2 separate regions of the Homo sapiens genome follow, and region 1 is linked to region 2. A link means that fine-mapping ties the variant in region 2 to the expression of a gene that starts in the linked region. Tissue or cell type: whole blood. Region 2 holds a variant in brackets; the other region holds the start of a gene. All regions are shown on one strand. Distances are between the middles of the regions.

The links. PIP is the estimated chance that this variant, and not a neighbour inherited with it, causes the effect.
Region 1: it holds the start of RAB33B-AS1, and the variant in region 2 is fine-mapped to the expression of RAB33B-AS1 in whole blood (TOPMed, PIP above 0.99).

What each region holds. Positions count from the first base shown.
Region 1 is chr4:139,451,094-139,457,133 of GRCh38, forward strand. RAB33B-AS1 (RAB33B antisense RNA 1) reads right to left here and starts at 2,948. Exons shown (of 1, transcript NR_159964.1): 1 at 582-2,948. It overlaps RAB33B (RAB33B, member RAS oncogene family), which reads left to right and starts at 3,028. Exons shown (of 2, transcript NM_031296.3): 1 at 3,028-3,351. The coding sequence starts at 3,103. RefSeq lists enhancers at 2,316-2,655, 3,276-3,325 and a silencer at 2,726-3,055.
Region 2 is chr4:139,073,414-139,079,453 of GRCh38, forward strand. It overlaps ELF2 (E74 like ETS transcription factor 2), which reads right to left. Exons shown (of 10, transcript NM_001331036.3): 5 at 41-154. Among named protein-coding and RNA genes, the nearest start is that of NOCT, 61 kb to the left of the region's middle. The variant T/C (reference allele first, on the strand shown) is at 3,102.

The DNA of each region.
Region 1 (6,040 bases), 380 kb after region 2:
GTTTCGCCACGTTGGCCAGGCTGGTCTCAACTCTTGACCTCATGATCCACCCTCCTCGGCCTCCCAAAGTGCTGGGATTACAGGTGTAAGCCACTGCACCCAGCCTGTTTACTTTTATGTTTTAGAGATGGGGGTCTCGCTGTGCTACCCAGGCTGGAGTGCAGCAGTGCAACTATAGCTCACTGCAGACTTGAACTCCTGGGCTCAAGAGATCCTCCAGCCTCAGCCTCCTGAGTAGCAGGAAGTAGAGGTGTACACAACCACACCCACTTTTTTTTTTTTTTTTTTTTTTTTTTGGAGACAGGAGGTCTCACTCTGTTGCCCAGGTTGGAGTGCAGTTTTGCGATTTCAGCTCACTGCAACCTCCACCTCCCTGGTTCAAGCGATTCTCCCACCTCAGCCTCCCGAGTATCCGGGATTACAGGCATGTGCCACCACACCTGGCTGATTTTTGTATTTTTTGGTAGAGACGAGGTTTCACCATGTTGGCCAGGCTGGTCTCAAATTCCTGGCCTCCAGCAGTGCTCCTGTCTTGGCCTCCCAAAGCGTTGGGATTATAGGCATGAGCCACCACACCCAGGTACTACTGTGTGATTTTAATATCCAATGTTTTTTCTTCTATTACAAAAGTATCTTTACATACTTATCTTACCCTAAGCCATTGAAATTGTTCCATTTTAAGTTGTACTGACAAAGGATCCAAATTTACAGTTTCTGCTCAGCTGTGTAGCAAAGTATTAAGGAAAGGGTTACATGTTCACACTTTGAGGCCAAGTGGTAGTGACTCCAAGGACAAAATGAACAGTCAAAAAACAGGGCTGTATAATCCATCCATTCTTTCCAACAGTAGAATTTCCTCCAATTATCAATTCTGGAGATTCTGGGGTTATTCAATTAAGAAGAGTAGCACATACTTCAGTCACATGAGGACACTCTCAAAATACAAGTTGAAAATACAAAACTCCTCATAACAATGTCAAGTGCCAACAATGATTTTTAAAATTTAAGTAGGGCTGAACTGTGTGTAACTGGTGAAATGTTCAAGTTAACAATCCTTACACACGAAATCTCTCACTTCACTGACTTAATTCATTATTTGCTGAATAAACAATAAACTTCCAGTCAGTAGTCAAGAGTTGGCAATCTAGCTGGTAGGACATAACATATAATCATGAAACAGCAAAAACAGTATTCAAAGATTAAATTAGCAATACCCCAAAATGTGTGTTAGAGTTAGCATAAAGAATTTCTGATGTAGTTTACCAAGAGCTAAACTAAAAAGTCCAGAATACAAAAAACAGGGATGCAATGATGTTAGTTTTTTTCACCATCCTTGAAATTCTCCCATTAACCACAGCTCTGAGTTTTCAACTGCTCTTTGTCCTTAAATCTTCAGATTCCCTCCTTTGAATGGGATAGGTAGAGCAGATTAGAAGAAATATATTCCGAGGCTCTCTAATAGTTTCTGGATGATTAACCTTCATGAAAATAACCTCACAGATAAGTAATTAGGATTTTTCAGCCCATTTCTATAAACTAAGTAAACTTTTTTTCTAGTGAACATAACTTGATATATTAGTGACTGTAGAAAGTCTTTCTACAGCAACAGGAATTATATCAAGGCTTTTGCAAATTCCTGGCAACTCCGGGCATGTTTAAGTTCTACTACTCATCTGTTCTGACTATATTTTCATCTGATGGAATAAGCAGTTCATCTCCTTTCCTAGAACTTTTAGTGCTCTACTGTCCCCCTCACTTTAGTTAAGGTCTGCCATGTCCTCCTCTCCGACAGTCCTTGACTTTCCCAATGGCATATTCATCTGCTCAAACAGATGTCACTGCAAAACAAAACAAACTTTTAACAAAAAGCAATGTTTGCATATTTGGGGCCTTTTGTATGACAATATTGCACGTTTCCTCAGAAAAATTCACGGAGATTCTTTAAGGTTGGGGGTTTAATCTATTGATATTTTCCTTAGGTAGACAAAGACAACCTCTAAGTGCGCTCAGTTAATCTTTAACCGCTACATCATCGTCACCCAGGCACTAAGACATAACTAGGGCATAATGAGTTTTATTTCCACCAGGGGCGCCTAGTAACTACCAGGTTCAACGCTCCCAGGTGGCCGACATGTGATGTGCTCTACTGTTTGGGCTGGGGATATTAGCTCAACAAACTCTGGCCACAAGGATCACGCGGATATTCTTGGGGATGCCTAGCGAAATGCGCTGTACCTAGGCCTCGAACTCTCGCCTGCTCTCCGGTGGGCGGTCTCGAACTCCAGCCTGCTCTCCGGCAGCCCACAGCAATGCGCCTGCCAAGACCTTAGGCTGCAAAACTCGCCACGGCCCAGAGCTCGCCTCCAAGTGCGCCCCGCACAGGGCAAGCTTTCGGCGAGGACTCGCGTCCCACCCATCTAGCCCTGGCCGCTGTCCCAACTCCCGCAGTTCACAGAGGCGGCGGCGGTGAGCGCAGCCGATGCCACATCCTCAGCGGCAAGCTGAAGAAACCTGTCTCCTCTCTGGGGCGACCAAACGATACGTCGATGCCGGAACCGACCCGACGCCGGAGCCGTCGGCTCCGTCCTTACCGTTGCTCTCCAGGTACACGCCCCCGTCAAAGGCGGCTCTGCGGCCCTCTCGCGAGAGAGTGCCCGTGGTACCTCCTTCCTCTCAGTTGTCTGTCTCTCCCCGCCCCCGGAGTGATTGCGCGGCTTCCTCCAGAGGGCGGGAACCTTGGACGTGGCGGGGCTGGGTCAGTCAGGGCGCTGGGCCCAGCCTCTCTGCAGGCTGGCCTTCCGCGCTGCCGTGAAGCCCCCGACAGGTCCCACGCCTGCCTAGGTAGACCGGCGCCAGCCCGAGTGACGCCTGGCGTGTGGCCGCGGGCAGGCGGCTCCGTGCGGCGGGGCGGGCGGGTGCCACACCTGTGCGGGCAAGGGCGGGGCGGGAAGGTGCGCAGGCGCGCTCGGGGCTGGTGGGCGGTGGCTCCTGGGAAGTTGCGCAGCCGAACTGGCCGGCTGGGCGCGCGCTCTTGCGGTGGCGTAATCTCTCAGCCTTTCTGTGTCTCCTTTCCTCCGCCTCAGTTTGGGGCGGGTCGGGGGAATGGCTGAGGAGATGGAGTCGTCGCTCGAGGCAAGCTTTTCGTCCAGCGGGGCAGTGTCAGGGGCCTCAGGGTTTTTGCCTCCTGCCCGCTCCCGCATCTTCAAGATAATCGTGATCGGCGACTCCAATGTGGGCAAGACATGCCTGACCTACCGCTTCTGCGCTGGCCGCTTCCCCGACCGCACCGAGGCCACGATAGGGGTGGATTTCCGAGAACGAGCGGTGGAGATTGATGGGGAGCGCATCAAGGTGAGCGGATGGGGAACTGTTGGGGAGGACAGGGTGACAGGTGTCCCAACCCCACCGTGGGCTGGTCGCTGGCCGTGTGCACGGTGTGTGTGCGCTCCATTTTTTTCTCACGCTGATGAGATTGGAGTTGGGGATTGGAAGGATTGCAATACTGCAAACTTCTAAGGCAGCGTTTCTCAGACTTCATTGTGCATGCGATTTACCTGGGGATCTTGTTTTTGAAAATGCAGGCTATGATTTAATAATCTCGCTGATGATGCAGGTGCAGCTAGTCCGTGGACCACACTTTGAGTTCAGGAGTGTAGGGCTTATCTACCGACCCATTTACTGTGTGTGTCGTGTGCTGGGAGTCAGTCAAATATGAACGGAGGAAAAACAGTGAAATTGCGCGAGAATGGAAAATTCATTTAATCAGTAATAGTTATTAAACATTCATTCGAGCAGTGCCTTAGATGTTGTGGAAGTAAAGCCTATTGCCTTTGAGGAAGTACTTAGGTATTCTCTTGCATACAGTTTTGCTGTAGTAGTTTCTTTATGATACTGATTTTAGAAAAATCTATTTTCCTGCAGAAACATTCTATATGTGATAGTTCCTACTCAGGTTGCCAAAAGCATTTCTCATGATGCCACCTCAGACACACGCCCAATTCTTTATTCCCTTTAAGTCGTTATTTTTGGTCCCTGGGACTGGGGACACTGAGTGACAGTAATAGTGGAGAAGGTAGTATAGGCCCCAGGGCAGGTTTGAAGTTCTGAGGGGTTGGAATCTAACAGTGGAATGAGGATCAATGACAAGGCTTAGGCCTCTTGATGGTATAAACCTTAGACACACCTTCATAGCAAGCCACCACTAAATGCCACCTGTTGATGCCACTCCTTAAAACATAGGTGGAACCACCTTGCCTTATACTACTGCTTTAAATCAGCGATCGTCTTTATCTCAGTCTCTTGGTGGGGATGGGGAGTGGTGGGAGAACAGGCTTGCTTTAGACGTTCCTACCCTCGTATCTTAGAGGCAAGAACAATTTATTTTTCAGTTCCCTAATCATCGCCCCCCACCCCAACGGGTTATACTGCTAATGATGGTAGAGGTGAAGTAAGCTGGGTTAAAAGAAATTAACCTTTCTTTGGTGCTTCTGTCTTTTAATTTTTCACATTAGTATTTCATGTCCCATATGAGCTCTCAGTGGTGGTTTTGGAGTTGCTTTGTATTAGGGAATTTAGAAAGATTTGTATACTTGCAGAAGAAAAGATAGAATAAAAGGCTAAACATTTTTCACCAGAATTAGGTTTGGCCCAGAAGCCTTTGGGGTGAAAAATAATGGAGCTTCTGAAGTTCCAAGGGAGTTAAGATTGGGAGAAGCAGGAATCTGGGAAGTACGTGGGCTTTGGAGCCCAACTAACCTGGATTCATATCTGAACCTACGAAAGGGTAGGGATGGGCTGCGTGTCCTTACTAGGGTGACCAACTTTGCCCAAGACTGTCCAGGTTTTAAAACTGGGTCTCACATCCCGGGGACCCCCTGTATTGGGCACACCAAAATAGTTGGTCACCCTGGACCTTAGGCAGATTCTTTAACCTCTCAGAGTCTGTATTTTTCTTCCGAAAAACTGGGATCATGATACCTTATCAGGCTGCTGTGAGGATCAGATGAGGACATATATGAAGCACCTGGTTCATAGTTGGTGCCTTTAAAAAGATTCTTTGTCTTTCCTGGTGGCTTAACATTATTTTTCCTGTTTGCCACCATTAGTTCTGCAGTTGTACACCCAAAGTTGAAAGCAGAGATAGTGGAGGGCATAGGTAGACAGCTAAGGGGAGAGAAATTTAAAAAACAAAACAAAAACAAAAACGGAAGTAGGAAATTCTTTCAAAAGTGGAGAGAATGAGGGTGGGGGAGGAGTTGGGATTTGAGGGCCCTTTATCTGTTCCTGGGTTGCCATTTATACTTAAAGATAACAGATGAATCAGGTGCAAATTTAAGAGATAATAGTATTGAAAAAATATAAAGCATGTGCAGTGTATAAAGTCAATTACCTAACTACTGAGGTGAGTGCTGGCAGTGATAAATAAGACAGAACCACAGGTATGACGAATCTGGGAGCACAGAGTTGATAATTCTGGTTGGGAAGAGCAAGGAGATGATATTTTTTGGGGAGATTATTTCTACTGAACTTTAGCCTAACTTGTTACATTGATATGGACTTGAATACTGAGATCATTTTTCTTCTAAGGCCCTAGCCGTTGATTTGTGCCACCAATGGTGAGACTTGAGAGAGATTTTTATTGTGGTTGAAATGACTACAGACATGTTCTGAGGTTTCTATAGTAGGAAAAGATATAGCTATGTTGGGCATTTTTTAAAACCACAGAGCTTAATTTTTTTTAGTGCCCTTTTTTTCGAAAACTGAAAAGTGATATAAAGAGCTTTATTCTATGTGCTGCTTCTGCTGCTTTTTGGTTAACCTGTAATACATCTTGAGTGCTGCTGAAATGTTCATATTACGTCTTTGGAAAATTGTAGCCTGATCTAAAATGACATTTTTCCTAATTTTTCATCTCAAAGCTGGAAAGCTCTATTACTTTACTAGTAAAATGCCATTCTAGACATTATTTCTTTGATAAAAATGAGATATTGCGTTAAATGTTTTGATAATCATGGACTAGAAAATTTTCAGAAAGCATGAC
Region 2 (6,040 bases):
AGTATGACACGTTTAACATAAGAATGAACAGTTTACATACCAGGACTTCTTGAATCCCTCAAGCAGGTAGGAGATTCCATATGAAGCAGGGCTTCAGCAGCTTCAATTGTCTTATCTGTACAGTGTGCATTACTGCTGTGAACTGATGCTTCCACTGGAGGAAAAATAAGTTCTACTCAATTAAAAATACACTAAACACATGACTAAAACATATTACTAAGAAATAAACATATTCACTCCTGAAAGAGAAATGAAAAATAAATAAATATAAAATAACATGACTAACTCTAAGCCATTGATATCTATTCGTCTATATAAATTACAGAAATAATTTTTAAAAAGCTAATATCTACATTTTATAAAATGAATACTGATATAAAATGAATATTGATTATGAAGTAACCAATGACATTGATTAGAAATTACTGAGAAGTTGGCCAGGCATGGTGGTTCATGCCTGTAATCCCAGCACTCTGGGAGGCCAAGGAGGGTAGACCTTGGTCAGGAGTTGAAGACCAGCCTGACCAACATGGTGAAACCCCGTCTCTACCAAAAAATAGAAAAATTAGCTGAGCGTGGTGGCACATGCCTGTAATCCCAGCTACTCAAGAGGCTGAGGCTGGAGAATCGCTTGAACCCAGGAGGTAGAGGTTGCAGTGAGCTGAGATCGCACCACTGCGCTCCAGCCTGGGCGACAGAGTGAGACTCTGTCTCAAAACAACAACAACAAAAGAAATTACTGAGAAGTTTCTGAATCTTACTCAAAGGAAAACAAAGAAAGATCCTTGAAATTTGAACCCTGCATCAATTTTAGGCCAATACTAACTTGTGGGAAGGGAGGAAGGGTCAGGGAGAGGCTGGTTGTAGATTAAAAACCCTGTGAGGGCAATTATATATTTTGATGTATTGCCATTAAAGCCAGGGCACCTAACAGAACCATGCTGCGCTAATTTAATCAATTAATTCAATTCTTACAGACCCTCTTGAATGACTGAGTAGAGTAAGCCCTCCGTGTCCAAGGGTTCCGCATCAGCAGAGTCAAACAACCTCAGATTGAAAATATTGCAGGGGGGCCGGGTGTGGTGGCTCACACCTGTAAGCACTTTGAGAGGCCAAGGCGTGCGGATCACGAGGTCAAGAGATCGAGACCATCCTGACAAACATGGTGAAACTCCATCTCTATCAAAAACATAAAAATTAGCCGGGCGTGGTGGCGGGCACCTGTAGTCCCAGCTACTCAGGAGGCTGAGGCAGGAGAATCGCTTGAACCTGGGAGGCGGAGGTTGCAGTGAGCCAAGATCACACCATTGCACTCCAGCCTGGGCGACAGAGTGAGACACTGTCTCAAAAAAAAAAAACAAAAAGAAAATATTGCAGGGGAGGGGGAGGCAATAAAAAAAATACAACAATTAAAAATACAGTGTAAATACTACAGCATTTTGTATAAGGGACTTGACTGAGCATTCTAGGATTTTGGTATCTGCCAGGTGGAGGAGACATCCTGGAACCAATACCCCAGGTATACTGAGGGACAACTGTACTCTCCAGGCAGAGGTGACTAAAGATGGATAACAACATGCATTATATTTACTGCCAGAGTACTTGAGAACTTTCTTTATAATTAACCTCGCTCTCTTCAGAGCCTCAGTGGGTTTTAACCTAAGACTTTTTCTTAGAGTTTATTCTTCCCATGAGGCCTTCAAATTCTACCACGCTTTGTATCTCTCCTCTTCTAGCACTTCCTTTATGCTTTGCTGATTATGTTACTTGTAAAACAATGTGTACAGCAGTCAGTGGTTTGGGCTTTCAGGTCCAACAGCTTGGGTTCCAGTCTCTGCCACTTATTTCTGTTACCTGAGGTAAGCAACTTAATCTCTCTCATAGAGCAAGAATATGATAATTTCTTATCATTCCTGTAAGATTATAAACTTCTTGAGGTCTGGGGGGCTAGCTTAACCCATCTTTACATATGCCATGGTTCCCAACATAGACTTTTCATGGAGCAGACATGCGGATTTTTATTTTTATTTTTTTTGAGACGGAGTCTCGCTCTGTTGCCCAGGCTGGAGTGCAGTGGCATGATCTAGCTCACTGCAACCTCCACCTCTCAGGTTCAAGCGATTCTTCTGCCTCAGCCTCCTGAGTAGCTGGGATTACAGGCACATGCCACCATACCGGATTAATTTTTGTATTTTAGTAGAGACGGGGTTTCACCATGTTGGCCAGGCTGGTTTTGAACTCCTGACCTCAGGTGATACACCCGCCTCGGCCTCTCAAAGTGCTGGGATTACAGGCATGAGCCATCACGCCAGGCAGGTATTTATTTTATGTACTGAATTAAGGACAACCCACTGACCTTACAAGAAAATCAGCAATTCAAGAACAAATTTTATTATCTTAATAATATATTAATTTCACATCCTGACTTAAAATGTTGAACAGTTAACTTAGTAAGACGTTCTGAAACATGAATATTTAAGAGTCTCTAACTTGACAGATTTTTTTTAAGATGTCCCCTAAAGGAACTAAAAGTAAATGTTTATACAAATTTCATAAAGTCATATTACAAATTCATAAGCACTATACACTAACGATATGAATCTTTTAAAATTGTTTCCAGGAAACTTTTAATTGGGGGAAAAAATCCAGTTCATCTCAAAGTTCCCTAAATGCTAAAGCCTCAGTCTTAAACAACAGTCATTTGGAAAGCATTTATTTTAAAAATCCAATGACTGTTTTACCACCTGTTGCACATCATCCACAAGGTACTGGGTCTCTCCAGTTGCTCTTTCCATTTATGGAAATCTGTTCAAAGCTAAATGGTTCCAGAGAGGCAGCCAAACCTCTAAGTAAATCTATCTTTAGGTGACCCTGCTTACTCTTATCTGCAGCTTCACTGAAGCAAAGGATTCAATCAGCCTGTGTAGCTCAACTTTAAGAAAACTTAGCATTATTAAGTATAAGACATATTATCATTCTCAATTATTGTTTTCAAAGTGCCTCCCTACAATACTCACATACACTAAGAAAAAAAAAAAACCTTCAATTCTCCAGTTTTTAAAATTTATTCTAGCAAGCATTCTCTTTAAAGTCTGCTTGTG[T/C]TGCAATTTAGCTCTTGTCTTAGGTGCTATTAATAAACTATCCTGGGCAAACTAATTCCTTATGTAATTGTATTAAGACACACCCTAAAACTTTACCATATTAAAATCAGAGCTTCAAGTATTCAATAATAATACAGCAAGAGAATTTTACCAGTTTTTTTAATGTTTCAAGTTATAAACAAAATGAAATTTGCCTAACAGTTACATATTACGTGCCCTGAATTCTTACATAGTTTGAGGCACATTTTCAAAACCATGATTTTGTGTTATTAAAATTGTTATGTCAATGGAAATTACTTCTTCAAGGTGTAATTCTTGCACATATTTCTGACCTCAACTTCCCCTTCCCCCCTAAAATTCAACATATTATATCTCAGAAATATTTTATATTTACAGAGTAAAATACATACTTAGAAAATTTACTCATTCATACTTTAAATTTACGATGACAACATAAAATATGCATAAATTACCTATGAAGTTATCAGCCAGAAGATCTAATACTCTACGTACAACTGACAAATCGTTGCTGACATTTACCATGTGCCCAGACCCTGTGCTATAAACCTGACACAAGTGTGAACAGATTTCTGGCCTCATGAAGCTTATACTACTATAGGTTGGGCATGCCTTATCCAAAATGCTTAGGACCAGAAGTGTTTCAGATTTCGAATTTAAAAAAATATATATCTGCACTATATATTTCCAGTGGAACATCCCAAATCTAAAAATCCAAAATGCTTTAATGAGCACTTCGAGTGTCACATCAGTGCTCAGTTTCAGATTTTAGAACACTCAATCTACAGTTCAGAGAGCATTAAATGGAAGATATTTCAAAACTAAATAAAAATGTAAAATAAACTTACTTTGTAAGTTACAAGCATGTTAAGAGGAACACTGATTACTTTTTTACTGCTTACTAATTTTATCTCATCATTTTTATTTACTAACTAAAATAATGCAAAATACAAAAATCTAAGAGGCTGTTCTCAGATCAATTTACAATAATGTACTAATGCCAGTTTCCAAAACTTAACACATTTTGTAAAAGTGAGCACTATCTTTTTATTTTTGTTTACATAAGTCAAGTAACTTTTAACAGAAATTTAAGAAATATTTCTCCTACTTGTGTCTGTAATTAAAAAAAAAATACTATTTTGTTCAGATCAATAATTCAAATAAAATTTAAACTATAATTTTGCACATTTAAGAATAAGCATGAATTTAACAGTGTTGTGCAATCAAAGTAAGCAAGCTACAAGCAAGAGCTGAAAAGTAGAATTCCTTATCTTACTTAAAACTTGACTTACTGGTATCTTTCTACATCTATGAAATTTATAGAAGGAAAAATAAATAACTCATTTTAAAAATAGAAACAATGAAGCTAAAAGTAGTCTGACAGGTATCATTTTCTAGTTACCACTGGTAGTGGCTATTGCTGGTCAATCCCCCTTGAAATAAATTTCAAGAACTGTTTTACTTTTTATTACAGTACCAAAAATAATATTTGCTTGTACCTTCATTTAATATTGGTAAATATCTTCTTGTTCCATTTCTATCTTTCTAATCAACCGGTGTTTGTATGGTACTGAAGACTATTCCAGACTCACTCAACAGCTGTTACAAAATACCAAACTTGGTAATTAAGTCTGACAAGAGGCATACCTCTCAGCTTTGCATAAAAGAATGCTGGCAATGGATCTAGTTCATAAAAATGTTCTCAAGTCAAAAATAAAATTTAGTAGCAATTTAGTTTGAGAGCAGTGAAAAAAAATTAGAAAACACTTCATTAGGTGATAGTGGTATTCTCCTATAAGCAACACTATAAACTAATAGTACAAGGTCTTCAGTCAACTGCAGCACCCGATTTACCACTACTTATCCTCTAATGCCCCAAAGCTATACCAGTAATAGGTAAATGAAGAATACAAATGAAGGCAATAAAAAGGGGGAAAAGGTAATTAAAGGTCTGGAATACTCCATCTTCACCTTTTCCCCCTTGACCTTTTAATCAATATACTTGCATTATAAAGTATAAAAAGGAAAAAGAATGGCAATTCTTTTTTTTTTTTTTTTACACTCTCGGAGGGGGAGAGCGAACTGCCCTCTGCAAGATGAGATCAGCCAGAAATTAAGTTTAAATTAATTAAAATTAAAAATTGAGTTTCTTAGCTACATTTTAAGTACTCAGATACATGCGGCTAGTGGCTACCATACAGTACAGACCTAAACAACACTGTAATTCAGCTATCCTCCGACCTTTTTTATCTGAGGACACTTTTACACTCAAAATACTGAAGACCTCGAGATTTTATCTGTATTTATCATATTTGAAATTACAAAGAAAACTTCAAAATTATTAATTCATTTAAAATAATACACCCATTACTGCAACCATAAATAACATTTTTTATGAAAAATAACTGTTTTTTGAGACAAGGTCTCGCTTTGTTGCTCAGGTTGGAATGCAGTGGCATGATCATGGTTCACTGTAGCTTAGATCTCCTGGGGTGTGATCCTCCTACCTCAGCGTCTCAAGTAGATGAGACCACAGGCACGCATCAGCACACCCAGCTAATTTTTTGATTTTTTTTTTTAGAGACGAGGGTCTCACTATGTTGTCCAGGCTGGTCTCAAACTCCCAGACTCAAGAGATCCTCCTGCCTTGGCCTCCCAAAGTGCTGGGATTACAGGCATAAATCACCATGCCTGGCCAAAAATAACTTAAAATAAAAAACAAAAAGTAAGTAGCTTTGTTTTTTACATTTTTGCAAATCTTATTATACTTGATTCAATAGAAGGCAGCTGAATTCTCCTTCCTCTTTCAATCTATTGGAATAACCCATCTATACATAGCTCCTAACTCCTCTGTACACTTTTGAAAGTGACAAGGCAAATAATGTCCCAGTATTATTTTCAAAACAGTTTTGTCTTTACAG